Linked DNA regions of Homo sapiens: region 1 is linked to region 2. The links come from fine-mapping of genetic effects on gene expression. A gene starts in region 2. The other region holds a variant in brackets. All regions are shown on one strand. Distances are from middle to middle.

What was found. PIP is the estimated chance that this variant, and not a neighbour inherited with it, causes the effect.
Region 1: its variant is fine-mapped to the expression of USO1 in cerebellar hemisphere (GTEx, PIP above 0.99).

The regions. Positions count from the first base shown.
Region 1 is chr4:76,282,180-76,297,987 of GRCh38, forward strand. The region is part of intron 6 of FAM47E-STBD1 (FAM47E-STBD1 readthrough); the gene reads left to right. FAM47E (family with sequence similarity 47 member E) reads left to right here. Exons shown (of 8, transcript NM_001136570.3): 8 at 1,202-1,604. The coding sequence ends at 1,279. Among named protein-coding and RNA genes, the nearest start is that of STBD1, 17 kb to the right of the region's middle. The variant G/A (reference allele first, on the strand shown) is at 8,954.
Region 2 is chr4:75,715,882-75,731,689 of GRCh38, forward strand. USO1 (USO1 vesicle transport factor) reads left to right here and starts at 8,696. Exons shown (of 24, transcript NM_003715.4): 1 at 8,696-9,004. The coding sequence starts at 8,939. It also overlaps a transcript of G3BP2 not described here. RefSeq lists enhancers at 241-756, 7,886-8,806, 8,807-9,726, 8,823-8,902 and silencers at 8,483-8,652, 8,987-9,164.

The sequences.
Region 1 (15,808 bases), 570 kb after region 2:
CAAGATATTAATCAACAGTAACAGTTGCCACAAAAGCTGGTTACAAACAATCCATGGAAACAGGAGGTGAAGCTAGACAACCAGTTAGACCAGAAATTCTCAGAAGGGAGTATGCCTTAACCCTAAAGAGGCCTAGAAGAGCTGTGGCAAGATGAGGGCATTTATAGCCCTATCTTATCCATATGGACAGGCGCCCCCCATGTGTCCGTTTATAGGCTTTCCACAAGGGTCGCATTCCATTCCCAGAGCTATGAACATCTGCTTTTCTGGGATAGGAATGTTGGTGATGTGCAACCTCCCTGACTGCACGTCCGTTCATAGGCTGTCTGCAGGGGGAAGCACATCATGCGCTGTTGGCTCGTTCTGGCAGCCCAACCTGGCATTGTCTTTACACAATCCTGCATGCAATTTTGTATTTACAATAATCAGGAGCATTTCATCTTTTATTCCGTAGCAATAGTTTCAGGGGGTCTCCCTACATCTGGCTGTCCTCTTTTCAGTCACATTGACTAGAGAAATGATGCCCCTGGTCACAACAGAGTCCTCTGAGAACACCTGTCACTCAAAACCCTACAATATTTTGTCCCTTTATTCTTACATCCTATATTCTTATTTTATCAATAAGATTTCAACTGAAGGAGAGAAGGGGCTCTATCACAGGGAATAAGATATATATGCATATACACACACACAGTATATAAATATATGTGTGTGTATGTGTGTGTGTGTATACACAGTTATTATTTACTTAAATCTATATGTGAACATTCATTCTTTTTTTTAACCTCCTGTGTACATTCACATATGTTATGTGAACATATGCACTTACCTACACATTCCAGTATCTGCTGCTGGATTAACTACTTGATGCATCACCCACAGCCTCATTCCCTCTGCTGCACGGATGGATCCCAAGCCTTAGTAGCAGGGATGGGCAGCACAAGGCTATGTTGAGCTGGGCTGGGCCAGACTTGGGCACAGAACAAGTGTGAATTCCATCTGAGTGTTTCTGATACTGTGTGACTACCTTCCAAAGACCAACATCTATCATGGTCAGATTATTAACATGTGATTTTGCATAGTGTAAGGATATATATTAGAGTGTGAAATTTTGAGTTAGATATGGTAGTGGTTGTGGGGAGGACTGTACTGTGCAAGTTTTGTTTGCCAATCTAATGAAGGTTCTCTCATTTTTTTTTAGTTCCTTGAGAATATGTATATCGGGAAGGAATGTAAACGTGCATGTAATAAGACTCCTATAAAACGAACTCAAGCATAGAAGAATCGTAGGAGAATGATTAGGCAGATTTTATTACTACGTACTTGGCTATTTCTCTGTCTCCTTTTAAAGATTAAACAGAGTTTATGATGAGTGTCCCACTGTGGATGTTCAACTTTGACTTGGCAACATCTGTAAATGTAATACCTGATGGTTATAAGCATTTCTCAATGGATTTCTGCTTCAGTTAATCAACATTTTGTATACTTTATCACCCATGAGATCAATATTCACATGTAATCTTCTCATATTTTTGTGGCACGTGAATATTATATAGGTATATCAACTATTGGTAAAAATAAATAAAGGCATAAATAAAAACAGACTTACTCTATTGCCTTTTTCCCAGGTTTTTCCCCTGGTATTGAATGAGTACCTCCTTTCCTCTTCCTTTACAATATTATTTTCTTTCATTTTGAATTAAATTTACTGAGATATTTTTTCCTTTTGTCCGCATTGCCATGGGTGGATATGGTCTGTTTGGCCCCGCTAAATCTTATGTTGCAGCTTGATCCCCAGTGTTGGACATGGGGGCTGGTTTGAGATGTTTGAGTCATGGGGGTGGATCCCTCGTGAATGGCTTGGTGCCATTCTCACAGGAGTGAGTGAATTCTCACTCTTAGTTCCTGTGAGAACTGGTTATTGTAAAGAGCCTGGCTCCTCCTCCTCTCTCTTGCTTGTTCTCTCACCATGTGATGTCTGCACATGCTAGCTCCCCTTTGCCTTTTGCCACGAGTGGAAGAATCCTGAAGCCCTCACCAGAAGCAGATGCTGGCACCATGCTTCTTGTACACCCTGTAGAGCTATGAGCCAAATAAATTTCTTTTCTTAAAAATTACCCAGCCTCAGGTATTCCTTTGTAGCAACACAAATGGACTAAGACAGGCATGTTAGTGTTGATAATAAATGTGTATCTATAACATAAGGTCATAGGTCAGAAGGTTTAATGGAAACTCAAGATGACATGTATTTTAATTACCTTTTAAAAATTATATTTTATTTTAAAATGTTAATACTCTCTGGGTGTGACCACTCACTCCTATAATCCCAGTGCTTTGGGAGGTCAAGTCAGGAGGATGGCTTGAATCCAGTAGTTCAAGGCTGCAGTGAGCTATAATCATGCCAGTGCCCTTTTGCCTAGGTGACAGAGTGAGATCCTGTCTCTAAAAAAAAGTTAATGCTCATATTAGGAAAATCAGAAAACATAGACTAGCAAAAAGAACATAGAAAATACTAATTCTTCCTATAGAGTTAGCAGTAACTGCTCTTTGCTCATTGGAATGTATCCTAGATTTTTTTCTATGAAACATATAGGGAATAATTTAATCAAAAAAGGATTTATTGAAAGGAAATTATTTATTAAAAACATATTCTGTCCACAGAGTATCTTTTTTTTTAACTTTTACTTTAAGTTCCGGGATACATGTGCAGAATGTTCAGGTTTGTTACATTAGGTATACATGTGTCATGGTGGTTTGCTGCACCTATCAACCTGTCATCTAGGTTTTAAGCCCTGCATGCATTAGGTATTTGTCCTAATGCCCTCCCTCCCCTTGCCCTCCACCCTCTGGCTGGCCCCTGTGTATGATGTTCCCCTCCCTGTGTCCATGTGTTCTCATTATTCAACTCCCACTCATGAGTGAGAACATGTGGTGGTTGGTTTTCTGTTCCTGTGTTAGTTTGCTGAGGACGATGGTTTCCAGCTTCATCCATGTCCCTGCAAAGGATGTGAACTCATTCTTTTTTATGCTGCATAGTATATGTGCCACATTTTCTTTAATCCAGTCTATCATTGATGGGCATTTGGGTTGGTTCCAAGTCTTTGCTATTGTAAATAGTGTTTCAACAAACATACATGTGCTAGAATGATTTATAATCCTTTGGGTGTATACCCAGTAATAGGATTGCTGGGTCAAATGGTACTTCTGGTTCTAGATCCTTGAGGAATCACCACACTGTCTTCCACAATGGTTGAACTAATTTACACTCCCATCAACAGTGTAAAAGCATTCCTATTTCTCCACATCCTCTCCAGCATCTGTTGTTTCCAGACTTTTTAATGATCGCCATTTTAACTGGCATGAGATGGTATCTCATTGTGGTTTTGATTTGCATTTCTCTAATGACCAGTGATGATGAGCTTTTTTTCATATGTTTGTTGGCCACATAAATGTTTTCTTTTGAGAAGTGTCTGATCATATCCTATACCCACTTTTTGATGGGGTTGTTTGTGTTTTATTTTGTAAATTTGTTTAAGTTCCTTGTAGATTCTGGATATTAGGCTTTTGTCAGATGGATAGATTGCAAAAATTTTCTCCCATTCTGTAGGTTACCTGTTCATGCTGATGATAGTTTCCTTTGCTGAGCAGAAGCTCTTTAGTTTAATTAGATCACATTTGTCAATTTTGGCTTTTGTTGCAATTGCTTTTGGTGTTTTAGTCATGAAGTCTTAGTCCATGCCTATGTCCTGAATGGTATTGCCTAGGTTTTCTTCTAGAGTTTTTATGGTTTTAGGTTTTATGTTTAAGTCTTTAATCCATCGTGAGTTAATTTTTATATAAGGTGTAAAGAAGAGGTCCAGTTTCTGTTTTCTGCATATGGCTAGCCCATTTTCCTAGCACCGTTTATTAAATAGGGAATCCTTTCCCCATTGCTTGTTTCTGTCAGGTTTGTCAAAGATCAGATGGTTGTAGATGTGTGATGTTATTTCTGAGGCCTCTGTCCTGTTCCATTGGTCTATCTGTCTTTTTGGTACCAGTACCATGCTGTTTTGTTTACTGTAGCCTTGAAGTATAGTTTGAAGTCAGGTAGCATGATCCCTCCAGCTTTGTTCTTTTTGCTTAAGATTATCTTGGCTATATGGGCTCTTTTTTGGTTCCATATGAAATTTAAAGTAGCTTTTTCTAGTTCTATGAAGAAAGTCAATGATAGCTTGATGGGAATAGCATTGAATCTATAAATTGCTTTGGACAGTTATGGCCATTTTCACAATATTGATTCTTCCTCTCCATGAGCATGGAATGTTTTTCCATTTGTTTGTGTCCTCTCTTATTTCCTTGAGCAGTGGTTTGTAGTTCTCCTTGAAGAGGTCCTTCACGTCCCTTGTAAGCTGTATTCCTAGGTGTTTTATTCTCTTTGTAGCAACTGTGAATGGGAGTTCACTCATGATTTGGCTCTCTGCTTGTCTATTATTTGTGTATAGGAATGCTTGTGATTTTTGCACATTGATTTTGTATCCTGAGACTTTGATGAAGTTGCTTATCAGCTTAAGGAGATTTTGGGGCTGAGGCGATGGGGTTTTCTAAATACACAATCATGTTGTCTGCAAACAGAGACAATTTGACTTCCTCTCTTCCTAATTTAATATTTCTTTCTTTCTTTTGCCTGATTGCCCTGGCCAGAACTTCCAATACTATGTTGAATAGGAGTGGTGAGAGAGGATACCCTTGTCTTGTGCCAGTTTTCAAAGGGAATGCCTCCAGCTCTTGCCGATTCGGTATGATATTGGCTATGTGTTTGTCCTAAATAGCTCTTATTATTTTGTTCCATCAGTACCTAGTTTATTGAGAGTTTTTATCAGGAAGGGGTGTTGAATTTTATTGAGGGCCTTTTCTGCATCTATTAAGATAATCATATGGTTTTTGTCATTTGTTCTGTTTATGTGGTGGATTATGTTTATTGATTCGTGCATATTGAACCAGCCTTGGATCTCAGGGATGAAGCCGACTTGACTGCAGTGGATAAGCTTTTTGATGTGCTGCTGGATTCGGATTGCCAGTATTTTACTAAGGATTTTTGCACTGATGGGCCTTTTTTGGTTGGTAGGCTGTTAATTACTGCCTCAATTTCAGAACTTGTTATTGGTCTATTTAGGGATTCAACTTCTTCCTGGTTTAGTCTTGGGAGGGTGTATGTGTCCAGGTATTTATTCATTTCTTCTAGATTTTCTAGTTTGAGTAGAGTTGTTTATAGTATTATTTGATGGTAGATTGTATTTCTGTGGGATTAGTGGTGATATCCCCTTCATCATTTTTTATTGTGTCTATTTAATTCTTCTCTCTTTTCTTCTTTATTAGTCTGGCTAACAGTCTATCTATTTTGCTAATCTTTTAAAAAAACCAGCTTCTGGATTGTTTGATTTTTTGAAGGGTTTTTCTTGTCTCTATCTCCTTCAGTTCTGCTCTGATCTTAGCTATTTCTTGTCTTCTGCTAGCTTTTGAATTTGTTTGGTCTTGCTTTTCTGGTTCTTTAAATTGTGATGTTAGTGTGTCGATTTTAGACCTTTCCTGCTTTCTGATGTGGGCATTTAGTGCTACAAATTTCCCCTGAACACTGCTTTAGCTGTGTCCTGGAGATTCTGGAACGTTGTATCTTTGTTCTCACTGGTTTCAAAGAACTTCGTTATTTCTGCCTTAATTTTGTCATTTACCAGTAGTCATTCAGGAGCAGGTTGTTCAGTTTCCATGTAGACATGCAGTTTTGAGTGAGTTTCTTAATCCTGAGTTCTAATTTGATTGCACTGTGGTCTGAGTGGATGTTTGTTATGATTCTTCTCCTTTTGCATTTGCTGAGGAGTGTTTTACTTCCAATTATGTGGTCTATTTTAGAGTAAGTGCTATGTGGTGCTGAGATGAATGTACATTCTGTTGATTTGGGGTGGAGAGTTCTGTAGATAGGTCTGTTTAGTCCAGAGTTGAGTTCAAGTCCTGAATATCCTTGTTAATTTTCTATCTCGTTGATCTAATATTGACAGTGAGGTGTTAAAGTCTCCCACTATTATTGTGTGGGAGTGTAAGTCTCTTTGTAGGTCTCTAAGAACTGTTTTTATGAATCTGGGTGTTCCTGTATTGGGTGCATATGTATTTAGGATAATTAGCTCTTCTTGTTGCATTGATCCCTTTACCATTATGTAATGCCCTTCTTTGTCTTTTTTGATCTTTGTTGGTTTAAAGTCTGTTTTATCAGAAACTAGGATTGCAACCCCTGCTTTTTTTTTTTTTTTTTTTTTGCTTTCTATTTGCTTGGTTAATATTCCCCCATCCCTTTATTTTCAGCTTATATGTATCTTTGCATGTGAGATGGGTCTCCTGAATATAGCACACTGATTGGTCTTGACTGTATCCAATTTGCCAGTCGTGCCTTTTATTTGGGGCATTTAGCCCATTTACATTTAAGGTTAATATTGTTATGTGTGAATTTGATCCTGTCATCATGATGTTAGCTGGTTATTTTGCACATTAGTTGATGCAGTTTCTTCATAGTATCACTGATCTTTATATTTTGGTGTGTTTTTGCAGTGGCTGGTAGCAGTTTTTCCTTTCCATGTTTAGTGCTTCCTTCTGGAGCTCTTGTAAGGCAGGCCTGGTGGTGACAAAATCCCTCAGCATTTGCTTGTCTGTAAAGGATTTTATTTCTCCTTCACTTAATGAAACTTAGTTTGGCTGGATATGAAATTCTAGGTTGAAAATTCTTTTGTTTAAGAATGTTGAATATTGGCCCCCACTCTCTTCTGGCTTGTAGGGTTTCTGCAGACAGATCCACTGTTAGTCTGATGGGCTTCCCTTTGTAGGTAACCCGACCTTTGTCTCTGGCTGCCCTTAACATTTTTTCCTTTGTTTCAACCTTGGTGAATCTGACGATTATATGTCTTGGGGTTGCTCTTCTCGAGAGTATCTTAGTGGTGTTCTCTGTATTTCCTGAATTTGAATGTTGGCCTGTCTTGCTAGGTTGGGGAAGTTCTCCTGGATAATATTCTGAAGTGTATTTTCCAACTTGTTTCCTTTCTCCCCATCACTTTCAGGGACCCCAGTCAATCATAGGTTTGGTCTTTTCACATCGTCCCATATTTTGTGGAAGCTTTGCTCATTCCTTTGCATTCTTTTTTCTCTAATCTTGTCTTCATGCTTTATTTCATTAAGCTGGTCTTCAATCTCTGATATCCTTTCTTCTGCTTGATCGATTCGGCTATTGATACTTGTGTATGCTTCACGAAGTTCTCATGCTGTGTTTCTCAGCTCCATCAGGTCATTTATGTTCTTCTCTAAACTTGTTATTCTAGTTAGCAGTTCCTGTAACCTTATGTCAAGGTTCTTAACTTCCTTGCATTGGGATAGAACATGCTCCTTTAGCTCAGGGGCGTTTGTCATTAGCTACTTTCTGAAGCCTACTTCTGTCAATTCGTCAACCTCATTCTCTGTCCAGTTTTGTGCACTTGCTGGAGAGGAGTTGCGATCATTTGGAGAAGAAGAGGCATTCTGGTTTTTGGAATTTTCAGCCTTTTTGCACTGTTTTTTCCTTATCTTCATGGATTTATCTATGTTTGACCGTTGAGGCTGATGACCTTTGAATGAGGTTTCTTGTGTGGGTGTCCTTTTTGTTGATGTTGGTGTTACTGCTTTCTGTTTGTTAGTTTTTCTTCTAACAGTCAGGTCCCTCTGCTGCAGGTCTGCTGGAGTTTGCTGGAGGTCCACTCCAGACCCTATTTGCCTGGGTATCACCAGTGGAGACTGCAGAACAGCAAAGATTGCTGCCTGCTCCTTCTTCTGGAAGCTTCATCCTGGAGGGGCCCCAGCCTGATGCCAGCCAGAGCTCTCCTGTATGAGGTGCCTGTTAACCCTCGTTGGGAATTTTCTCCCAGTCATGAGGCACAGGGATCAGGGACCCACTTGAGGAGGCAGTCTGTCCCTTAGCAGAGCTTGAGTGCCGTGCTGGGAGAATCCTCCTTGTCAGGATCCACTGCTGTCTTCATAGCAGGCAGGCAGGCAGGAACATTTAAGTCCGCTGAAGCTCGCCCACAGCTGCCCCTTCCCCCAGGTGCTCTGTCCCAGGGAGATGGGAGTTTTATTTATAAGCCCCTGACTGGGGCTGCTGTCTTTCTTTCAGAGATGCCCTGCCCAGTGAAGAGGAATCTAGTGAGGGAGTCTGGCCACAGTCACTTTGCTTTGCTTTGTTTGGTTCTACCCAGTCCTTAGCATGGTCAGGGGAAAAGCCACCTACTCAAGCCTCAGTAATGGTGGACGCCCCTACCCCCACCAAGCTTGAGTGTCCCAGGTTGACTTCAGACTGCTGTGCTGGCAGCGAGAATTTTAAGCCAGTGGTTCTTAGCTTGCTGGGCTCCATAGGAGTGGGACCTGCTGAGCGAGACCACTTGGCTCCCTGGCTTCAGTCCTCTTTCCAGGAGAGTGAACAGTTCTGCCTCACTGGGGTACGAAAAAAAAAGTCCTGCAGCTAGCTTGGTGTCTGCCCAAACAGCTGGCCAGTTTTGTGCTTGAAACCCAGGGTCCAGGTGTTGTAGGCACACAAGGGAATCCCCTGGTCTGCAGATTACAAAAACTGTGGGAGAAGCGTAGTATCTGGGCCAGATAGCACAGTCCCTCATGGCTTCCCTTGGCTTGGGGAGGGAGGTCTCCAACCCCTTGCACTTCCCGGGTGAGGCAAGGCCTCACCCTACTTCTGCTCACCCTCCATGGGCCACACCCACTGCCTAACTAGTCCCAATGACACGAACAGGGTACCTCAGTTGGAAATGCAGAAATCACCCGCCTTCTGCGTTGTTCTTGCTGGTAGCTGCAGATAGGAGCTGTTCCTATTCATCTTCCGAGATCCTCTGCTTTTCATCTTGATCCACAGAATATCTTTATGGACAGAGGCTCGGATTTGAGTCTGCCCTCCCAG[G/A]AACAATACCCGAATTCATGCCTCAAAACTGAGCTGGTGAACACATCTCTATTGATGCCCTTGGCGTAGACATGGCAACCAGCACAGAAGTCACCATCATCGGATGCTGGAGTTACCCCCAGGGCCACCTCCACTGCTGTCTTTGAACATAGATGCAACACCAGTGCCAGCACCTTACCCAGCAGCAGCATCCATGCCCAGTGTGGGTTCTGCCTACTCATCTCAGGGTCTCTGATGAGGCACTTGACTGGCGGAGCCAGATCCATGCCTATGAGTGAAGTAGGCAAAGAAAAGTAGTATATGGCATTTCTAGCTCCTACAGTGTAAGGGGACTCTGCCCCCATAGGTCAGGGGGTTCAGGTGCCTCTTAGAATATGGAGTTCAGATGACTAGCCTCTTGAATGCCCAATATCAATATCTACTTTTTTCATAAAGAAAAAAGCATAAGAAACAAACAAACAAAAAAACCTTTTTTCTAATTAATACAACCATCCCTCCTGCAGAAGAGGACACAATCATGTTCTCAAAAGTGATGAGTTCAAAGTTGTATCCATTACTGCATTTGCCTTCAAATACAAAATCCCTGGGGGCTGGCATTTCATCCTCTGGGTCTGTGATGACCTCATCTCAGTAATCTGTATGCTGAACTGACTACATAGTAAATTTGATCACCAATAACACACCCTTTGTGGAGAAAGAGACAAGAGGAAGAAACTTAAAAAAATGGCATATACATGACATGGAAGAAAATGCAGATAGATGCAACAGTGTTCATTTCTACAACTGGTCAAGAGGCCATAGTTCCTATATATAATTTCCCTTCTCCACTTCCCATTTCACATTCTTTTCACCTTTGGCTAGTCCCTTAACTGTTACAAAATATTTAAGAGAGTGACCTAAACCTTTATTCACAAAGCGCCTGAGTCTTGCTGGTCCTGACCAGCCAGGACATTTTTATTAGTAGACATGACAACACTAGGTAGAACTCCAAGGGGTCCTTTGATTTCCATGACTCTACTGTCAATCAGTTTTCACTTGCTGTTGATGATTCATATAGTTCTCTCCTTTTCTTGTTCTTCAGGGATCATGAAGAGTCCATACAATGACCAGGTGGCAGTCTCAGATTCTAATTCAATGGAACTATTATTTTTTTTCTACTGATAGACACCTTGTCTCAAGCTTTTAAATCACCAGAGCCCAGTTCATGGGGCTAAGAAGTAACAGTTTTGCAAGTGGTTCTGAAGGAGGTGCTCCTCCTGATGCTACACCCATGTATGCTGAATATGGGAAAAACAGCATATATTGGTTGCTGGTGCAGAATAAATAATGAATGTTGGTGTGGGCAGAAATTTGTTAGGCAGGGTCAGCAAATCCCAATCCAGAATAAGTTACTATTCCAGTAAAGATAAATTACTGCCCCTTTCATGATAATGGAAGAGGTCTGGGACATTCTTTGAACCCACTCATTCAACGACCATTATGACCTCCTTCTAGCTTGCCTTCCTACTGTAGAGGCTGGAAAACTAATGGCTGCATTTCCCAAACTCTCTTAATGTTTCAACTCATTAAAGTGCCCACATGTTTGGAAGTCCAAGGGAGCACCAAGGGGAGAGCTGATCCTCTGCAAGCCAGTCTGGCTTTCAGGTGCTGAGCAGCAGAGGCTACGGGAAGTGGTAGTCTGGAGGGAATCCACTTCTTTCCCCAGGCACATTGTTCCTGGCTTTGTTCCATTCAAACCTAATTCACATCAGGGACTTTAGTTTTATTTCCTGGACAAATAAATATTTAACAGAAGCAGTGGCCAGATCAGGTTTGATGAGGGAAATCCAAGTTGCTAAACCCCCGTGTAGCCTGTGATTCTGCTACTATGCCTACTTCGCTCATTGGGCAACACTGGAGTGCCTGCAGAAAGGAGAGAGTTGGCATGCAGGAGCCAGGTCAACCTCTTCTCTTGACTATTGAGCACTTCCTCTCCAGTGGGGGCCTTTGGGTGGCATTCACAAAGAACCAAATATCCTCATACTCTGGATTCATTCTCAGAGATCCCATAGATACCTCTTCCTCTGAACATCTTTGTCACCAGACTTGCATTCTTGATCCTTCCATGTCTTGGCTGCTGAGCTACACCGTCAGCTAATGACCATTAACTGGTGATATCTGTGCCTCATACCATTTCTCCTTTCAGACAAAGTGGTCAGCAAGATAAAATGCTTAAAATTCTGCCTTCTGGAAGATTCCTCTTTGTTGATCTTCAGGGTCACCCTCAAGTTGGCCTATAATGTTGCTGTAGTCTACTTGTGGCTGGTGCTGTCATATTGTGCTGGTTGCTGTCTAGTCAGTTGGACTTAGAGAACATACCATGAAGTCAGAGGTGTAGGCTGAGGAAAAAATGGTAATGTGGTAGGAGTGGGAACACCATGCAATTTGTTGTGTCTTCAATTTCTGCTCAAGCCCAATCTTATGTAGGAAACTTTCACTTGATCATAAGAAGCAATACAATTTGGTAATTTAATATGTGTACTTTGAAGCCAGGGGGCCTGTGTTCTAACCAAGTCCTGCCACTTATTAGATATATGACTATGGTCAAATTGCTTTTATCCTCTCTCTGCTTCAATTTTCTCATCTAAAATAGGGATGATTACAATAACAGTACTATTTCCCAGAAATGTGGTGAGGATTAAAGGAAATGTTGCAAGTAAAGTACTTAGAGCAGAGCTTGGCACACTGTGCACACACACTAAATGTTAGCTGACTTTATGGCGTGGTGAATCAGATAGTCCCCAGCTTATGATGAGTGCTAGCCATGAGATTAGGCTGCTGTATTTACCAGTGCTCAGCAACAAGCCAAAATCTGTTTCTCAAAAGGAGAAAAGTTACATGCCACAGAATCCGTGGCTTGGCTGCAAAACTCTCAGAGCCTGTGCTGGATGTTCCAAAGCTCCATTCAGCAGCCCTGTCTGCCACAGGCATTTCAATAACATTGGATCCACTGGATCAGAAGACAGAGCTTCCTGGACCAGTGAGAAAGCATACTCTTGCTTCAGGCTGCACTCAAAATTGGCAACCTCTCAGATTATTAAAAAAACTAGCTGAAACAGCATGTCTAAATCTGGTCTCCAAAATTCAAAGACACACCATTATAGAGTATTTCCAACACCCAGTTATAATACATATAAATAATCTGAGCAGCATAGATAATAATAAAAAGCTGTCAACTAGGAAGTGATGAGTTTGTAATTATCTTTGTTTTTCACATCATTTATTTAACTGTAAGTATATATAATTTGTTTTAATAATGGTTGTGTTTAGCAATCAGCTCACTAAATTCTTGAAAATTTGTCAGTTGACCTTTGTGAGTTGGTACAACCTGTCTCTAGCACCTTATTGACTATAGAATTCAAGGCAATGAGGGATGTTAGGAGCAAAGAATGAAGAGAATTGTTTTCCCCTACCTCCAGTAAGGTTACTCCCACAAAGAATAACATTACAGAGTCTTCATGAAAGATGGAAAAAGCCTCATCATGAAGGGAGATTTTCTCTGACGAGGAAGGCTGCATTAATTCAGGTGTGCCAAGAAGCAATGGCAAGATGGGAATAGATGTTCTTGAGCTTTACTGAAGGAAGGAATGGGAAAAGATAGAGAGAGCTTTAGACTGTGATGCCTGTCTGATATCTGTGGAAGGAATAAGGGAAGGAAAGAAGATTGGTGTAAGAAGAATCTTGGACTGTAGCACAATTCAAATAAAGGTTTCGCCAGTCCAGCAGGAAGTCCTCAAGTTGAAGTTGCCTAGAGGAGGAGTTTCACTTCTTGCCAGAATGGGACTACCTTGGTGCTTCTGGCATGCTCAGTCATTGGTTAGGGGTAGCCCATGAGAAGCATGGCCTCAGTGTGAGGGTGGAGGATCCAGGGAGGCAGCAATTTGGTCCACCAGCCAATGATGCTCTCTGCAGCAGATGATCTGAGTAGCATATTTTCATAGGGTTGGGAGTTTAGGGTACTTGGAGCCCACCGTATCTTCCCATATGTTCCCATTTCAGGATTCAGGGTCTCACTTTTTCCAAACAATGTTCTAGCTTCACATAAGGTATCCTAAAAACCTGTGAATTCAAATGATGTCTTAACTTAGCAAACTAAACAGTCAATTATCTCTCTCTCTCCCAGTTCAACAGTTTCAAGACATATTTCTTTAGAAAATTCCAAAGAGCCCCTGATTTGGGGATTTGTGTTTGTTTTAAAATATGTCCACAAATTGGCCAGGCTGGTGGCTCACACCTGTAATCCCAGCACTTTGGTGTGCCAAAGGCGGGTGGATCATGAGGTCAGGCGATCAAGACCATCCTGGCTAACACGGTGAAACTCCATCTCTACTAAAAAATACAAAAAATTAGCTGGGCATGGTGGCAGGCAACTGTAGTCCCAGCTACTCGGGAGGCTGAGGCAGGAGAATGTCCTGAACCCAGGAGGCAGAGCTTGCAGTGAGCCGAGATAACACCACTGCACTCCAGCCTGGGCGACAGAGCAAGACTCTGTTTCAAAAAAAAAAAAAAAAGTCCACAAATTATTTGATACTTTTTCAAAATGTGGTGTCTAATTCCCTCCACTCAAGTGTAGTTAGTGACTGTAGTTAGTGGGCTGTACTTAGCGACTTGCTTCTAATGAAGACAATGTGGGAAAGGTGATGATGCCTGATTTCTGAGTCCCAATCACATCAGGTGAAATTGTGGCTTCCTTCTTGTTCTCACTTGGATCATCTGCTCTGGGAGTGTCTAGCTGCCATGTTGTGAGGACACTAAAGTTGTCTATGGAGAGGCCCACATAGCAAGGAACTAAAGCCTTCTTCTAGCAGCCATGGGGCAAGCCATCTAGGAAGTGGATCCTCCAGTCCCTAGTAAGTCTTCAGATGAGACTGCAACCCCTGCTGACATCCTGACTGTAGTCTTACGGGAGGTCCTGAGCCAGAACCACAAAGTTGCTCTTGAATTCTTGAATCACAAAAACCACTATAATGTTTGTTGTTTTAAGCCATTAAGCTTAAGATTTATTTGTTAAGCAGTAATAGGTAACTAATATAGATTTTGTTACCTGGAAGTGGAGTGCTGCTATAACAAGAACCTAAAGTGTGGGAGGGAGAAGAACTGGGTAGTGGGGTGGAAGCTGGAAAATTTTGAGAAGACTGTTAGTAAAAGCTTCAAGGGCCTTAAAAACACTGTTAGTAGAAGCCTTTGAGGAGGTGACAGCTTGTAGGAAAATGAGGTAATGTTATTGGAAAGTGGGAGAAACAGTCTCCTTGTTATGAAATAGCAAAAAGTTTAGCCCACATGGAATGTAGAAAAGGCAGCTGATGAGCTGGATGATCTAACGAAGGAGATTTTCATACAGAATGTTGAAGATACTGCCTGGTTTTCATTTGCTGCTTACAGCAAAATGCAAGAAGAAATAGATAAGCTAAAGCAGGACAGCTTAAAAAGAGGAACCAGGATTTTATGGTTTCGAAATGTCTAGCCTCTTGGATAGCAGATAATGTTTAAATTAAGGAATGATATGGGGCAAAGACAAAATCCAGGACATTGCCAGGAAAACATGGTCTAAAGAAGACTCCAAGGATGTAAGGATGTAACTGTTAAATCCTTTGTTAAGACCTCAGAAAGATAAAAGGTGTTGCCTCAGCGTACTGTTCAACTAGACAAAAGGCTCCCTAAAATTTTCTTAGGTGTGCTACAGTTTCTTTTGATCAAACAAATAAAGCTTCTAAGAAGCTGAAGATGTTGTTCTTCACCAGAAGCCCATGGTAGAGAAGGGCTTATCTTGAATTGATTTGTAGATTTGGCTTTTGAAAAATGGCATGGACCCAATAAGAGTCACAGGAAATCTGTAAAGTTTTTCAAAGAATTGTATTGGAATAAAAACTGCCAGCTTGGACTAAAAGGGACAAAGACAGTATGAAATGAAAAGAGGCCTCTGGATCTCCATAGTTCTACTGGCAGAAAGCAGACTGAGAGAACTTCTCAGCTACACATATGTGCTTCCATTATAGAACAGATGACTCAGAGGACATAACCAAGAAAGTGGAAACAAAGGCCATGCAGAATTATTCCTAGTTGAACAAAGTTCTAATTGAGGACCTTCTACAATTTCCTTGGCTGCTTTACAGAATTGCCATGGAGCAGTGACTCCTGTATGCCTCTATTTTTCTCCTATTTTTGGAATATGATTGTATATGGTGATTATATTGTGTCTGTTCTACTATTATATGTTGGGTGATGTTACAGAGGGTGGGGGTGGGAGGGATAGGCATATACCTTTCTGTCTTCAGATTGAAAGGAAATGCATTAGAATAATTGTACTTAGGAAGTACATCTAAGCAGTTTCATCTGTACCTGGGCCTGATTCAGATTCTAACATTCTGGATTCCAAACTGATGCTGTAAAGGGGTTATGGGAGGATTTTGTAAGGGTGGGGCTGTGGGGGTAAGTATATTTTACATATGAAAAGAATGTAAGTAATTTGTGGCTAGAGGACAGATTGGTCTTGTCTTAAAATATGTTCACAAATTCTGTGATACTCTTTCCTTCAAAAGATGAAGCTTGATTCTGCTTTTCTTGAGTGTGGGCTGTGCTTAGTGGCTTATTTCTAAAGAATAGAATGTAGCAGAAGTAGCGATGTGTGATTCCAAAACTAGACTGTAAAAGGCATTGTGTTCCCTCTTTGCTTTCCCTGAGATCACATGCTCTGGTGCAGATTTTCTCAGCCCAGGCAATATTGATGTTTTGGATCGAATTTTTCTTATTATTCTTTGTTGTGAGGGACTGTTCTGTGCTTTGTAGAATATTTAGTATCACCTCTGGCCTCTACTC
Region 2 (15,808 bases):
CAAAATACCAGTATAGTCATTTTTCTCTGACCCAGATACTAGAACGAGACCTAGATAGCAGCACCCTCACATGAAGGAGACCGGCTGCTGCAATAACCTATACAGACCTTAGATTCTGAGCTTTTTAGGAGTCAATACTCACATACTTGGGAAAGAGAGAGCACATCTAGGACTAGGGTCTAGGTCACTTTGGGTCACAGACTTTGTGCCCCTGTCCTGAAAAGGTCATGTGTGTAGGTATTGGAGGTGGGGAGAGGGCAGTGGGAAGGGCAAGTTGGAGCTTTTCTAGTTCTTTTTTTTCCCCTGGAGACACAGTATTGCTCTGTCACTCAGGCTGGAGTGCAGTGGTGCAATCTCAGCTCACTGCAACCTCCGCCTCACAGGTTCAAGAGATTCTTGTGTCTCGGCCTCCCAAGTAGCTAGGATTACAGGCACGTGCCATGATGCCCAGCCAGCTAATTTTTTGTATTTTTAGTAGAGATGAGGTTTCACCATGTTGGCCAGGCTAGTCTCAAACTCTTGAGCTCAGGTGATCTGCCCACCTCAGCCTCCCAAAGTGCTGGAATTACAGGCGTGAGCCACCACACCCGGCCCTCTTCTAGTTCTTGTTTTTTTTTGTTTTTCTTTGTTTTGTTTTTGTTGTTGTTTTTGGAGACAGAGTTTCCCTCTTGTCACCCAGGCTGGAGTGCAGTGGCGCGATCTCGGCTCACCGCAACCTCCGCCTCCCAGGTTCAAGCGATTCTCCTGCCTCAGCCTCCCGAATAGCTGGGATTACAGGCATGCACCACCATGCCCAGCTAATTTTGTATTTTTAGTAGACACGGGGTTTCTCCATGTTGGTCAGGCTGGTCTCGAACTCCCAATCTCAGGTGATCCACCCGCCTTGGCCTCCCAAAGTGCTGGGATTACAGGCGTGAGCCACTGTGCCCGGCCTCTTCTAGTTCTTTATACCACCCACAACTAGTATGGTGTTTGTGCGATCCTGTAAGGAAGCATCAGGGGACAGAGGCCAAACAGAAGACTTCTCTTCTTTGCCTCTTTGTACTTACAATCTTCTCATCTTCCATCCCTCTGCCCATGGACTCCTAAGCTACTGGCAGAAAATTATGTCCACACCCAACTACCTCTCCTTTTCCCAAACCACCTGCCTATGCCAGTTCTGGACCCTCCACATAACATCTGCAGGTTACTGAGCCCATCCTGATTATCTCCCTAGTGTATTTGTCAATCACAGGCCATTGGCATCTTAAAGTCAACTTCATTAAAAAACTGGAATTATGGCCGGGCATGGTGACTCATGCCTGTAATCTCAGCACTTTGGGAGGTTGAGGCGGGTGGGTCTCCAGGAGTTTGAGAGCAGCCTGGGCAAGACGGTGAAACCCCATCTCTACAATAAAATAAAATAAAAATTAGCTGGGTGTGGTAGTGCACACCTGTAGTCCCAGCTACGCAGGAGGCTGAGATGGGAGGATCGCTTGAGCCTGGGAGAAGGGGGTTGCAGAGAGGGGACCTTGGAAGTGTGGGCTGACTTTGGAAAGTTTTGGTCCAGGTCAGCTACCATCTGCTGGCCTGGAGGCCCAGTCTGATCTCAAGAGACAACTCTGTCACTCCCTCCTGCCACAAATACTTGCTTGGGGCATAGCCTCAGGCAAATGACAGAGATCAGCTGCCAACTACTCTAAAATCATAGCTTGCTGGGAAGTTGGCAATGACTCCATTAAAATCATCTTAAGCTTACATGGAATCTTGGCATCACCCAATGCGAACTTCAAAGGCTTTGGTCTAGCTATTGAATGGGACAGTAAAGACTGCAACCCTACCCTGGCTATTCAGGACATACTTGTTCAGCTGGCTTGAGGTGTTGGGGGAGAGACAATGGTGTTGGGAGGTAACAGTCAAATTCTCCACAAGAAACAGTGCTAGGGCCTGGATCTGATAAACTTGTCCCTCGATAAACAGTTTTATAAAAAGTCCTTTGGCCAGGCGTGGTGGCTCATGCCTGTAATCCCAGCACTTTGGGAGGCTGAGGCGGGTGGGTCACGAGGTAAGGAGATCAAGACCATCCTGGCCAACATGGTGAAACCCCGTCTCTACTAAAAATACAAAAATTAGCTGGGTGTGCTGGCACGCACCTATAATCCCAGCTACTTGGGAGGCTGAGGCAGAATAGCTTGAACCTGGGAGGCAGAGATTGTAGTGAGCCAAGGTAGCATCACTGCACTCCAGCCTGGAGACAGAATGAGACTCCGTCGCAAAAAAAAAATTACAAATAAAATAAATAAATAAATAAAAATAAAAAGTCCTTTGGAAATGAAAATGGGATTTCCTAATTTAGGTGTTTCTTCTTTCTTTCTTTCTTTTTTTTTTTTAGGTGTTTCATAAGTAATTCTGCTTATTGTATTTTCTTAAAAATGGAAACACACCTGGGTTATACTTTCTTTAAAAAAAGGGTATAGATTTGCTTGCTGATTTAAGTACAATGCAATGTCAAATTACGTTTATTAAATAATGTAACATGATCTTTTGAATCTTTGCAGAGAGGCAGAACTTATGCTAGCATACACTAGTGATAAGGCTGGAAAAATAATTTCAAAAAAAACTGGCAAGCAGTTTAAGTACGTTAGGGGATACAGTGAGCATGTATTGTTTTTCTTATCCTGATAAACATTCTCCTGGCATACTATTCCAGATTTCCTAGGAGAAATGTGAATGTCCCTGTTCCCCAGCTCCTATGCCATATGCTTTGAGATGAGATGAAGACTTCTACTCCTTGCTTTAGAGGTGGGAATGTGACTCAAGGCCAATCAGAACATCTCAAACCTTAAACTACAGGAATTAGCTCACCACATAGGCATGCGACCCTATCAGGTAAAATGAGTCACAAGGAGACTTTTGCTGGGACTCTTAGGAGAGAGGTTGGGAGTCTTTGATGAACTTGGGCCTAGGATACTAGGACTATAGGTCCTGGCAGCCATCTTGCCCCGCATGGAGCTAGAGAAAAAAAAACAAAAACAGTTAAGGAGAGCAGAGTCCAGAAATAGTGAAAACCCAGATAACAGGGAAATTGGCTTGATACCCCAGATTAAGCCTCATCTGAAGTAACAGACTTCTCAGTAACATGAGCTAGTAGGGCTGGAGTTGAAGACTTACAGGGTAATATCTTTAAACGTTCAGTTGTTAAGAAATTGATAATACCGTGGCTCACGCCTGTAATCCCAGCACTTTGGGAGGCCGAGGCGGGCGGATCACGAGGTCAGGAGATCGAGACCATCCCGGCTAAAACGGTGAAACCCCGTCTCTACTAAAAATACAAAAAATTAGCCGGGCTTAGTGGCGGGCGCCTGTAGTCCCAGCTACTTGGGAGGCTGAGGCAGGAGAATGGTGTGAACCCGGGAGGCGGAGCTTGCAGTGAGCCGAGATCCCGCCACTGCACTCCAGCCTGGGCGACAGAGCAAGACTCCGTCTCAAAAAAAAAAAAAAAAAAAAGAAATTGATAATACCGAAGATGATCAGGGTCTCCACTCTAATCATTATTGAGTACTTACTATGTTTCAAGTACTAAGTAATATGAACGTTACAGATATTATCTAATAAAATCCCAAAAACAACCACAGGAGGCAACAATTACCATTCCTTTAAAAAAAAGTAAAGCAGGAACTCTGGGCTCTATAGCATGTGAGACACCTCAACTATTCCAAGTCCTTACCTTGGTCTCATTTCTTTTTTGAGACGGAGTTTCGCTCTTGTTGCGCAGGCTGGAGGGCAATGGCAAGATCCTGGCTCACTGCAACCTCCGCCTCCCAGTTTAAGCGATTCTCCTGCCTCAGCCTCCCGAGTAGCTAGGATTACAGGCATGCACCACCACGCTCGGCTAATTCTGTATTTTTAGTAGAGACGGGATTTCTCCATGTTGGTCAGGCTGGTCTCAAGCTCCCGACCTCAGGTGATCCACCCGCCTCGGCCTCCCAAAGTGCTGGGATTACAAGGGTGAGTTACCGTGCCCGGCCTGGTCTCATTTCTTATCTCCTGAGAGAGGTAGCTGTCCAACATTTTAGCCTCTGAATCTTTTTGTTCAAGCGAAACAGGAAGTATAAACAAATGAAACCAATCAAATGGAGCAGGATGGGGGGGCCCAGAACCCTTTTTTTTTTTTGAGAAAGGGTCTCACTCCGTCACCTGGGCTGGAGTGCAGTGGCACAATCTTGACTCACTGCAACTTCAAGCAATTCTCATGCCTCAGCCTCCTGCGCATAGCTGGAATGATAGGCCACCACGCCCAGCTACCAAAACCTTCTTTCTTGGACTCTCCTCTCCCAAGGATTTCCTAAGGCTTTTAAAAATATTTTGAGGGCGCCGGGCGCGGTGGCTCATGCCTGTAATCCCAGCACTCTGGGAGGCCGAGGCGGGCGGATCACGAGATGAGGAGATCGAGACCACGGAGAAACTCCGTCTCTACCAAAAATACAAAAAATTAGCCGGGCGCGGTGGCGGGCGCCTGTAGTCCCAGCTACTCCAGAGGCTGAGGCAGGAGAATGGCATGAACCCAGGAGGCAGAGCTTGCAGTGAGCTGAGATCGCGTCACTGCACTCCAGCCTGGGCAACAGAGCGAGACTCCGTCTCAAAAAAAAAAAAAAAAATATTTTGAGGGCTAGGCGCGGTGGCTCACGCACTTTGAGAGGCTGAGGCAGGCGGATCATAAGGTCAGGAGATCGAGGCCATCCTAACTAACACGGTGAAAACCTGTCTCTACTAAAAATACAAAAAATTAGCCAGGCATGGTGGCATGTGCCTCTATTCCCAGCTACTTGGAAGGCTGAGGCAGGAGAATCGCTTGAACCCGGGAGGCCGAGGTTGCAGTGAGCCGAGATCGCGCCACTACACTCCAGCCTGGGTGACAGAGCGAGGCTCCATCTCAAAATAAATAAATAAATAAATAAATAAATAAATAAATAAATAAATAAAAATATTTTGAAGCCTGGGGCAGTTGGCTCACACCTGCAATCCCAGTATTTTGGGAGGCTGAGGCAGGAGAATAGCTTGAGGCCGGGAGTTTGACATCAGTCTGGGTAACATAGCAAGACTTCATCTCTACAAAAAAAAAAAAAAAAAAAAAATTAGCCAGGCATGATGGTGTGCACCTGTAGTCCTAGCTACTCAGGAGGCTGAGGCAGGAAGAGCTCTTGAACCCAGGAGTTCCAGGATGTATGTGCCACCACGCCGAGCTAATTTTGTATTTTTAGTAGACAACGGGGTTTCTCCATGTTGGTCAGGCTGGTCTGGAACTCCCAACTTCAGGTGATCCGTCCACCTCAGCCTCCCAAAGTGCTGGGATTACAGGCGTGAGCCACCTCGCCCAGCCTCAACTAGTCTTTTTTTTTTTTTTTTGGGACAGGGTCTCACTCCATCCTCCCAGCTGGAATGCAGTGGCACAATCATGGCTCAATGCAGCCTTGATCTCCCAGGCTCCAGCGATCCTCCCACACCCTCCCAAGTAAGTGGGACTACTGGCTGGGAATACAGGCGCATGCCACCATGCTCAGCTAATATTTTATTTTTTGTAGAGACAGGGTTTTGCCACATTGCCCAGGCTGGTGTTGAACTCCTGAGCTTAAATGATCCTCCCACCTTGGCCTCCCAAAGTGCTGGGATTATAGCCATGAGCTACGTCTTTAAAAACCTATATACGATACTGAAGGGGCTTATAACCTACCAAAATAATAAATAAATAAAAACCTATATATGATAGATTTCAAATACAAATGATCATTTATATTTATCCTCCCAAGCAGGCATAGACAACATTCCACCTTACTACCACCCCAACTAAAAAACAATCTTATGCAATTATATTTCGTTGTTTTTGCGAGTTTTCCACTAGAAAGTTAAGTGGGCCACTGAAAAAAGCAATTTGAAAAAATGAATTTCAAACCAATGAATTTTGTTCGTTGATCTATTGTCAGGTTTGGTTTAGAAAAAGATCACTCTTAATTTTGATTATATGTATTTTAATGATTCATAGGACTCTTATCCTGAATGCTTAGATTTATGAAAGCCAGAAGTATTAACAGTGCAAGTCAGGCCGTCACAATTTGTTCAAGTTTTCTCTTCCTTTATTAACTCAGGTAGTTCCTGAGCATCTACCATATTAAAGGAATTATACTAGATGATTAAAGGATGCAAACAGGAATACAACACAGTCCCTGACTTTTCTCCCTCTACAAAATCAGTAGAAGTGGATTAATATGTAACTCTTCCTCTGAAATAAGGAGTCTATTTCATGGTTGTTCTGTAGTGACAATGCCTCGGGGATCCCACCTTCATCACCTTTGCACCCAACTGTCCATCACTCCTGTGCAGGGGATGCTGCTGGGGAAGAAAACAGGTCAAATGCAGGGAAAATTCATAGTAAGCTGTTACTACTACACTCACGAAAGTATAGTAACCTACTTTACTCACTGAAGTACAGTAACCTACTGTACCCACCAAAGTTTAAAACAAAACAGGACATTTGACAAGGCTGGTGCCTTTAAACAACTTTGCTAAAATGTCAAGGCACTCTTTTTAATTATTAAATAAGAGGAGTAATAGACATTTGTGGCCCACTCCGTCTATGAGCCTCATTCCTGATGATGGGGTAGAGTGAGTTTCAGGGACAAGGTGAAGTGAGGTTCAGGGAGGGGTGAGGCTTAGGGGCTTAAGTGAAGTTCTTTGCATGCATTTCTTAGTAACAAAAATGCTGAGTAATTTACTGGTTACTTTTTTTAGGCTGCAACAAAATGCTCCCATGGAAAATGTCTACGGTAAAATGTCAAGTGTATAGCTTTAAAGCAGAGGACAATGCTTAGCGCACAGTATTTTTGGCAGTATGACCCCACCATTCTCCAAGTTGCCCAGGCTTAAAATGTTGGCACTAGGAAACACATAGCTTATGATGTCTTCCCTACAATTTCACTTTACAGATTAAAAAAAGGGAACCTCCTCTTAGTATAATATTCATATATTCTTTCAATAATTTATTCATTTATCCATCAATATCACCTTTTATGAGACAGTGGTAAGCAACAGAGATATAAAATGAATAACATAGTCCTGCCCTTAACAGTTTGGTTTAGCAAGCATTTATTCAATGTACACCATATACAGTATCAATAACTGCAAAGTGCTAACATATAGATGTGTACCTACATTTTAGGGAAAGCTTTCAAGAATGATGTCAGAGTTGAGCCTTAAGGAATTAGCAGGAGTTTGCTTGATGAAGAGAAAGGAAGGGAAGGGCATATCCAGGTCTGAGAAAAATGCCCAGAGTATGTGGGGGAGGCAGGAGCTGAAAAAGTAGGCAGGAGCTAAATCATAACAGGCCTGTATGACAAACTAAGGAGTTTGCACTTTATTCTGGACAGAATGGGGAACAACTGGAGGATTTTAAGAGGAATGACATGAACAGATGTTTTGTTGTTGTTAGTCTCACCCAAGGATGGACTGGAGATTGGACTGGAAGGAAGCCAGGGCTGAATGCAGACAAACTAATTAGGAGGCTGTTGCTGTCATCTCAATGAGAAATGATGAGAAGAACATAATCTATGTCACAGGCACAGAGGATGGAGAGCAGAACACCTATTTGAGAAATATTCTATAAATAGAAATGATAGGACATGACTATTGATTGGACATGTGTGGGTGGAAAGCCAGAGTCTAAGATTCTTCCCAGCTTCCTCTGTCTAGCTTAGGCAATTATTTGGACAGTGGTACTACTGAGCACGGCACGCACACAGTAGAAGCAGCATATTGACTTTTTTTCTTTAAGGGAGGCAGGGAAAGATGACGAGTTCAATTTTAAATGCTGAATCTGAGACCTGTGGGGAATCCAAGGGGAGAGGTGCATGAGTCAGTTAGCTAACTAGACCTGTGCTTTTTAGCCTCAAGAAATTTACAAGACTATTCCAGAAGCATGTGTACTGACAACCTCACTGCCAAAGGAACAGGCATACCAATTAGAGAAAATGACAATTTTTCATGTTAAAAAAAAAAAAACTGAAAACACAGGGGTTGAGAGTTAATAACGAAACATTATGTTACTCGCCAAACTGACACAGCAGAACAATGTATTTCTCTAGTAAGCTAAATGTAGGGTTTGATGGGTTTCCTCCTGACGACACTTGAAAATAGAGGTGTACCTGGTGTTTAGATCTAGGAATTCCTTTCAGCAGGTTTGAAGAGCAAGAGCTGAGAAATGCGCCCTCCAGTGGCAGTGGAATGAGGGGTGTCTAGTAACCCTTTTTACCACCAAACAAAGCCCTGTAAAGAAATGCAATTTACCGGGATCAGAAAGCCACAATGCTGGTACCAGTAAACCGTCAAACCAAGCGAACCCTCTCAGGCGCCAGGAAGCCTTACCTGTCACGTTGGCCAAAGGAAAATTTCACTTTCGACTCAACAAAATAAGACCTCAGATTTGATAGCTTGCAGTAAGTCCCGCTTGGCGACGATTAAACACCCTGCAAGTCGAAACGCGTAGTCTAATCAAATCCTCTCCAGCCTGCAGGGCCGGGCTTCCACCACGTGGGTGGCTGCGGCCAGCAGGATCAATCCGCGAAGGGTGGGGGTAGGAGGCGTGCCCCTGCGGTGGGAGGCGGGGTCTGCGCAGTGGGTGGGGCTTCGGCGGAACCTAGCTAAGAGGTTCCTCTCGCCTCCGCTCCCCTTTTGCCTTCAACCTTCGAGCCGCCACGTAATGCCACGTCCCCGCGCATGCGCATCTTGGCCGCTGCTGGCGGCTGTTTCCGGGCTTAGAGGGCTGGAGTGGCCGCCGAGTTGGAGGCGGTGGTGGCAGCAGTAGGAGTGTGTAGAGTGCGGGATTGGGGCCCAGGCCCTGCGGAGGGCGGGGGAAGTTGTCTTCTTTTTTTTCCGGAGGGGCCGGTAAACCTGGTGGCTGAACGGCAAGATGAATTTCCTCCGCGGGGTAATGGGGGGTCAGAGTGCCGGACCCCAGCACACAGAAGCCGAGACGGTGAGAGGAGCAGCGGGTCTGGGACTTGGGAAGGGGTCCGGGCAGGGACGGGGACGGAGCACTCGGAGACCCGAAGGTCACCTCCAGCGTCCCACCATGGAGGGGGCATCCACATGCCGCCTCCCCCTTTGCCCTCCTTCCGCTCCTGAAATCCCAGAGTTATTCAATCACGCCCCCAGCTCAGTCCCCATTGCTGCCGTTCGGCCGGACTGACGGCGGCCGCGCCCCGCAGCTCTGTAGGCCCTGAAGCTCGGGCTAGGAGAGTGGTCCGCAGGTGGTACCGCACGGGAAGGGACGGATGCGCGGCCGAGCTGGCCCGAACTGCCTCCCACGCCCCTCGGGGCCGTGGGCCCCTCCCTCTTTCTCTTTCGCTCGTCTGCACTGGCCGAGAGGAGCCTGAAGTCCTGCTCCCTCCCTCGCAGTCTGAAACTGGGGCGTTGGGGAAAACTGCGAGAAGGTTTAAAACCCAGCTGTTGGTGAGAGCATTTGGCTAAGAATAAAACGATATTCTTTGAAGGACAAATCCACCTGCTCCTGTCCCATCAACTGGAAGAGCGGTCGTTCTGCCTGGTGTTATTTGTTCAGATCCGGCTTTTCGGGCTCACCCAAATATATATCATTTGGCAAATGCTACCTTGAACGTAGTAGGGATCTTAAGCGCTCAAACTGCTTTGGGGACACGTCCACCGCTTTCTGCCTGAACTCCTAATGACATGATTTGCGGCGTTATTTAAAAAAAAAAAAAAATGGTTAGCCGCTGAAAACATTATTTAATAGTTGCTTAGATTCTAGGTTTAGAATACACTTATTTTGAAGTTTGGTTAGTGTTTAATGGAATCGAGGGTGTATGCCTTTTTGAAATAAACTTTTTATTTGAGAAGAATTTTAGATCTACATAAAAGAGACTAAGTATAACACTTTAATGGCTAACTTTGTTAATGGGATCCTGAGGGATAATATAGTAGCTTTCATTTGTCAGGCTCTTACCTTGTGCTAGGTTCTGTGCTGAGCTCTTTATATTCCACATTATGCTTTAATCGTTAACTACCCTGCAAGATAGGTGAGAGTATTCTCACCTTAAAAGTCAAAAAATGAGACTGAGAGGGGTGAAGTAGGCCGGACGCGGTGGCTCACGCCTCTAATCCCAGCACTTTGGGAGGCTGAGGCCGGCGGATCACCTGAGGTCGGGAGTTCGAGACCAGCCTGACCAACATGGAGAAACCCCGTCTCTACTAAAAATACAGAATTAGCCGGCCGTGGTGGCACATGCCTGTAATCCCAGCCACTCGGAAGGCTGAGGCAGGAGAATCGCTTGAACTCGGGAGGCGGAGGTTACGGTGAGCAGAGATCGTGCCATTGCACTCTAGCCTGGGCAACAAGAGCGAAACTCTGTCTCAAAAAAAAAAAAAAAAAAAAGGGGTGAAGTAACTTGACCAATGTCACACTGCTAATAATAGAGCCAGGATTCAACCAAGAGGTACCTTACTTCAAAGCCTTCACTTTATTGCTCATGCCTGTATTTCAATACTTTTTGGGAACTTTATATAGTATTACTAAAATTAACTGCAGCTAGTCGCAGTGACACAGGCCTATAATCCCAGCTAAGGGGATGCTAAGCCAGGAGGATCGCTTGAGCCCAGGAGTTTGAGACTAGCCTGGGCAGCATGAAGAGACTCCATCTCAAAAAAAAAAAAAATAACTGCGCAGGTCTGGTTAGAATTGTTTAAAGCATAAGATGAAAGCCGGTAAATCTGTTTCTTTCATTTGAAAATCACTTTTCTGTCTCTCACTGTAACACACGCACACATTTGGCTTCACTCATCCATTCCCACTTGGCAACAAGGCAGCCTGAGCTACCCTACTAGAAGATCATGTTCTGTCTAGATTACCAGAGTCATACCATAATCACAGCCCACCACTTTTTTGTCTGATATTTGTGTTTGTGGCACCAGGTTATGAAATATGGTTTATTACAGCTTGCTTTGTGGAGTTAGACTTTGATTTGAATCCTGGCTTTCCACCCCTGATTGGATTGGATATGTAAGAGATAGCTAATACCCTCTAAGTAAAATGAGGAAAATGCCTGCTTTTTAGGATGTAATGAAGATTAAGTGAAATAAGTAGAAAGAGCCTGGCACTTAGTAGATGTATAATGAGAGGTAATTTTTACTATGTGTGGGTTGAACGAAGAATACCCTTTCCTGTTTTTGTTATTATTGGCCTTGTCACAGTGACTTCTGTAGAAAAGATGGAATAGAATTCACAGTGTATAGGATTTTAAAGCTAGAAAGTCCCAGATAGAGCCTCTTCATTTTATAGTCACAGAGCACTAAAGTAGCTTGCACAAGGTTGAAGAGTTGGAGCTAGAACATTTTGATCTTGCCACTGTGGATGGAACAACATAGTTTTTATATCACAATTTCAAAGTGAAACTTGAGTATCACTTGCGTATGTTGTATATATAAACTGAAAGGGTCCTTTCTTGTTCTTGCCTAACTTTGAGTATGTACATTTAAAATTGGAAAAGTAATTTGTCTTCTATTTTTTCTTTTTAATCACCTCCACAATAAAGCAATTTGCCTTCTGAAAATTATTATTCTGAGGTACAGTATGAATAAAATTTGTTTCACTATTTCGTTCCACCAGGAAGTACAACAGGTAAAAGGGGTCATGGATTACTAATTTAGAAGTATTTATAGAGCATCAGTGGAGTGTATATACAATTTTAGATGTTTTAATTGATGATTTAGTCTGGCCAGGATATTTGAGTTACCAGAGCTTGGAACCCCTAGCTTCTATATTATCATTTATTATTTTGTAGTTTTTTCCATTTCTGCAAAATTAAATTTTTTTCATGGTGGCTTTCCATCTTTCTTGCTTTTTCTAACATCTTTTTTCCAATGGAAGGGCTCTTTTCTTTGTCTGAATTAGACCTGTTATTTAAATTCATCATCAGCGCCTCCCCTAATCTGTACTTTCCCCCAGCACGTTTCAGATGCTTTTTCCTTTCTGAGCTACCTTTACATTTTAACTACAGTGTGCATATATCTTATTCCTTCTAGACTCTTAAAGTGTCTTTAGGGCAGGGTTCATAATGTATTTTAATCTTTGTTTTTCCACAGTAGTAGATGCCCAGTAAATACTTGTGAAATGAATTAATTATAGTTTTATTTGAAAGAAATCACAGATCTGTAATTATAGCAACTTACGTTACTAGGTACTAAAACACTTTTTAAAGACTAGAAACTGAAGTTCTCAAATGAAGTTCATTGTGTCAAGCTTTTTACTTAAGGGATTTTTTCATATTTACTAAATGCTTTGACTGCTTTCTTGTTTTTTTTTTTCTTATTGAATTTAAGTATCTTTTAAATGTGTGAGAGTTATGTGATTGATTGTATAGTATCTAGCTTTTCATACTCTTAGTTAAGAGTAACTTTGGACTGATATTAAGATGTTCTTCAGGCCGGGGGCTCACGCCTATAATCCCAGCACTTTGGGAGGCCAAGGCAGATGGAGCACTTGAGGTCAGGAGTTTGAGACCAGCCTGGCCAAACTCCTTTCTGGAGTCAAGCACATTTTTATGGTGAAACCCTGTCTCTACTAAAAATACAAAAATTAGCTGGGCATGGTGGCACATGCCTATAATCTCAGCTACTCAGGAGGCTGAGGCAGGAGAATCGAGGCGGTGGTTGGCAGTGAGCAACCACTGAGTGGTTAAGATTGTGCCACTGCATTCCAGCCTGGGCGAGAGAGCGAGACTGTCTCAAAAAGAAAGATGTTCTTGAGAACCTGTCAAGTAGTAAATATTTTATCATAGGATAGTCAATTCTATAAAGTACTGGATATTTTAAATTCAGAATTTCATCCACATTAAACTTTTTCTGTTTTAGAGTCATGTACTTTTGTTTTTGTTTTTGTTTTGTTTTGTTTTGAGACAGAGTCTCGCTCTGTGGCCCAGGCTGGAGTGCAGTGGCGCAATCTTGGCTCACTGCAAGCTCCCCCTCCCGGGTTCACGCCATTCTTCTGCCTCAGCCTCCCAAGTAGCTGGGACTACAGGTGTCTGCCACCACACCGGCTAATTTTTGTATTTTTAGTGGAGATGGGGTTTCACCGTGTTAACCAGGATGGTCTCGATCTCCTGACTTCGTGATCCGCCTGCCTTGGCCTCCCAAAGTGCTGGAATTACAGGTGTGAGCCACGGCACCTGGCCCCAGAGTCGGGTACTTTTACATTTCATTTCTCTTTTTTACTTGACACTGATTTCTGGTGATTGAAGCCTCTTTAGCCTTGACACAGTTTGCTGGGTGCATATTATTATAGTACAAATCCTACTCATGCTTTTGTTTTTTAGTTTTCTCTTTTTCCCTAACCACTAGACCACCAGGGACTTCATGCTTTTGAATGTAAGCTTATGTGTGCTTAGTGTTATATCTGCCTTCTATCTAGCACCTTTTTTTTGGGTAGGGGGGTGGGGTACGAAGTCTCGCTCTGTCGCCCAGGCTGGAGTGCAGTGACGTAATCTCGGCTCACTGCAGCCTCCGCCTCCTGGGTTCAAGCAGTTCTCCTGGCTCAGTCTCCCGAGCAGCTGGGACTACAGGTGCACGCCACCACGCCAGGCTAATTTTTTTGTATTTTAGTAGAGACAGGGTTGCACTGTGATGCCCAGGCTGGTCTTGAACTCCTGAGCTCAGGCAGTCTGCCCGCCTCGGCCTCTCAAAGTGCTAGGATTATAGGCGTGAGCCACTGCGCCCAGCCCCCAACTTGTACCTTTTTTAAAGCTAGTTTCTTGAAAATTCCAAGCAAGTGTTAACTACATTTGATGATGAATCATAGAGGCATTTTCTGTTCTCAAGTTGGACCCCGAGACATGAAAGTTGCTAATGTCCAGAAAAAGCATACAGAATTAGAACATTGTTATGGGGTCTCTTTCCAGATCAAACTTTCATCAGCTGTCTCAGAAAGCAGAAGGGCTAACAATATAAACACAGCCATATTTTCTTTTAATAAAAATTGTTATTAAAGAGTGTGGACTTAAATTTAGACATAGTTTTCGTTTAGTCAAGCACATTTTATACCATGTTACTATAAATGTGTAGTCTGAAATTCCTATTTGGGTTGATGTATTCTACATTAATAACCAGGTCAATGTCATAACTGGAATGTGTTTTCTCTCTTGGCCTGTTTTGCAATAACAATGTCGGAGAGAACTGTAATAATGATTTGTGTTTTGGTCATTTCTATATCGAAGCACTCTTTTTAAGTAGGGCCTATTGAATACTACATGGCTTTTTGGAAGGTTAATTTTGTAGATTATATAGGGTTCATTTAAAAGTTAGAATCATTTAAATTATACATGCCGTAGCATTACCAAGGTATGCTTCAAAAAATTTGAATAGATGTCCATGAAAAAAATTTTGTCAGCAAAGAAGTGTGTGCAACGACCACTAACAAAGAAAAAACCTCTAGTATTTATGCAAGGTTTTGTAAGCAGGCACTGTGTTATAGTTTCAGATATTTTTAAAATGTAGATAAAAAGTAAGCTGTTTGCCAAATTTATCTGACCAGACCTTTTTTTTTCCTCTAGGGAACTTTGTTATCTATTATTTTGAGAAGCATACTTAGGGAAAAATTGTCCAAGAGGATATATAATTCTGATGCCTTTTTCTTTATTTTCCTTTATTTCATTAAAAACATTACTCTTGAATCTGATTAGGAAAGAATATTAGAATTCCTTATATACATTTGTTGATACCAAATACTGTTCCTCTTTCTTTTTATGTATTTACCTTTTATTATTAATATTACTGCTTTGTACTCTGCTTTTTGTCTGTTGTAGGTATAGTAAAGTTATGCTTATTATTTTTATACCTCAAGCAGAAGTGCCATAAACATTTTTTGTGTCAAAAGTTATTCACCATTAATTTGAAAACTTTTTTTTTTTTTTAAAGAGACAGGCTCACAATATGTTGCCCAGGCTGGTCTTGAACTCCTGGCCTCAAACAATCCTCCTGTCAGCTTCCCAAAGTGCTGGGATTACAGAAAAACTTTTGTGGTGTTAGATTTTGAGATGCTAGCATTTGTGATAGGTTATTTGGTAGACATGTTTCATTATGACCCCTTGCTTAAAACGATGTCCTTTTGAAAAGCATAGTTCATTTATGGGAAAGAGCATGGAGAATAAATGAAGCAGTATATTACTTGGCTGACTTAAGGTAACTATAATGGAAATGGATTCATTGGATTTGTCTACAAAGAGACTTGTGTTTGATTTTTTAATGTTCCCACATCTCTTTTTATAGATTATAATAATTTAGGTCATATGAAGATAAGATTTGCTTTTGCTGTTTTAATAAAGTCTTCTCAGTAACAGAGTTAAATTTAAAACAAATTTCTGGGCCAGGCCTGGTGGCTCACGCCTGTAATCCCAGCACTTTGGTAGGCTGAGGCGGGTGGATCACCTGAGGTCAGGAGTTTGAGACCAGCCTGGCCAACATGACGAAACCCTGTCTCTGCTAAAAATACAAAAATTAGCTGGACATGGTGGCAGGTGCCTGTAATCCCAGCTACTAGGGAGGCTGAGGCAGGAGAATCACTTGAACCCACGAGGTGGAGGTTACAATGAGCCAAGATCGCACCACTGCACTCTAGCCTGGGCAATGGAGTGAGACTCCGTCTCAAAAAAAAAAAAAAATGACTTTTGTAATCTAAAACAATAATATTTTTATTTCATCTAAAACATAAGTGAATTGACTATTAGCATGAATTATTTGTCTTACAGTTAGGGAAATTCTGTTTTAGGAAGGT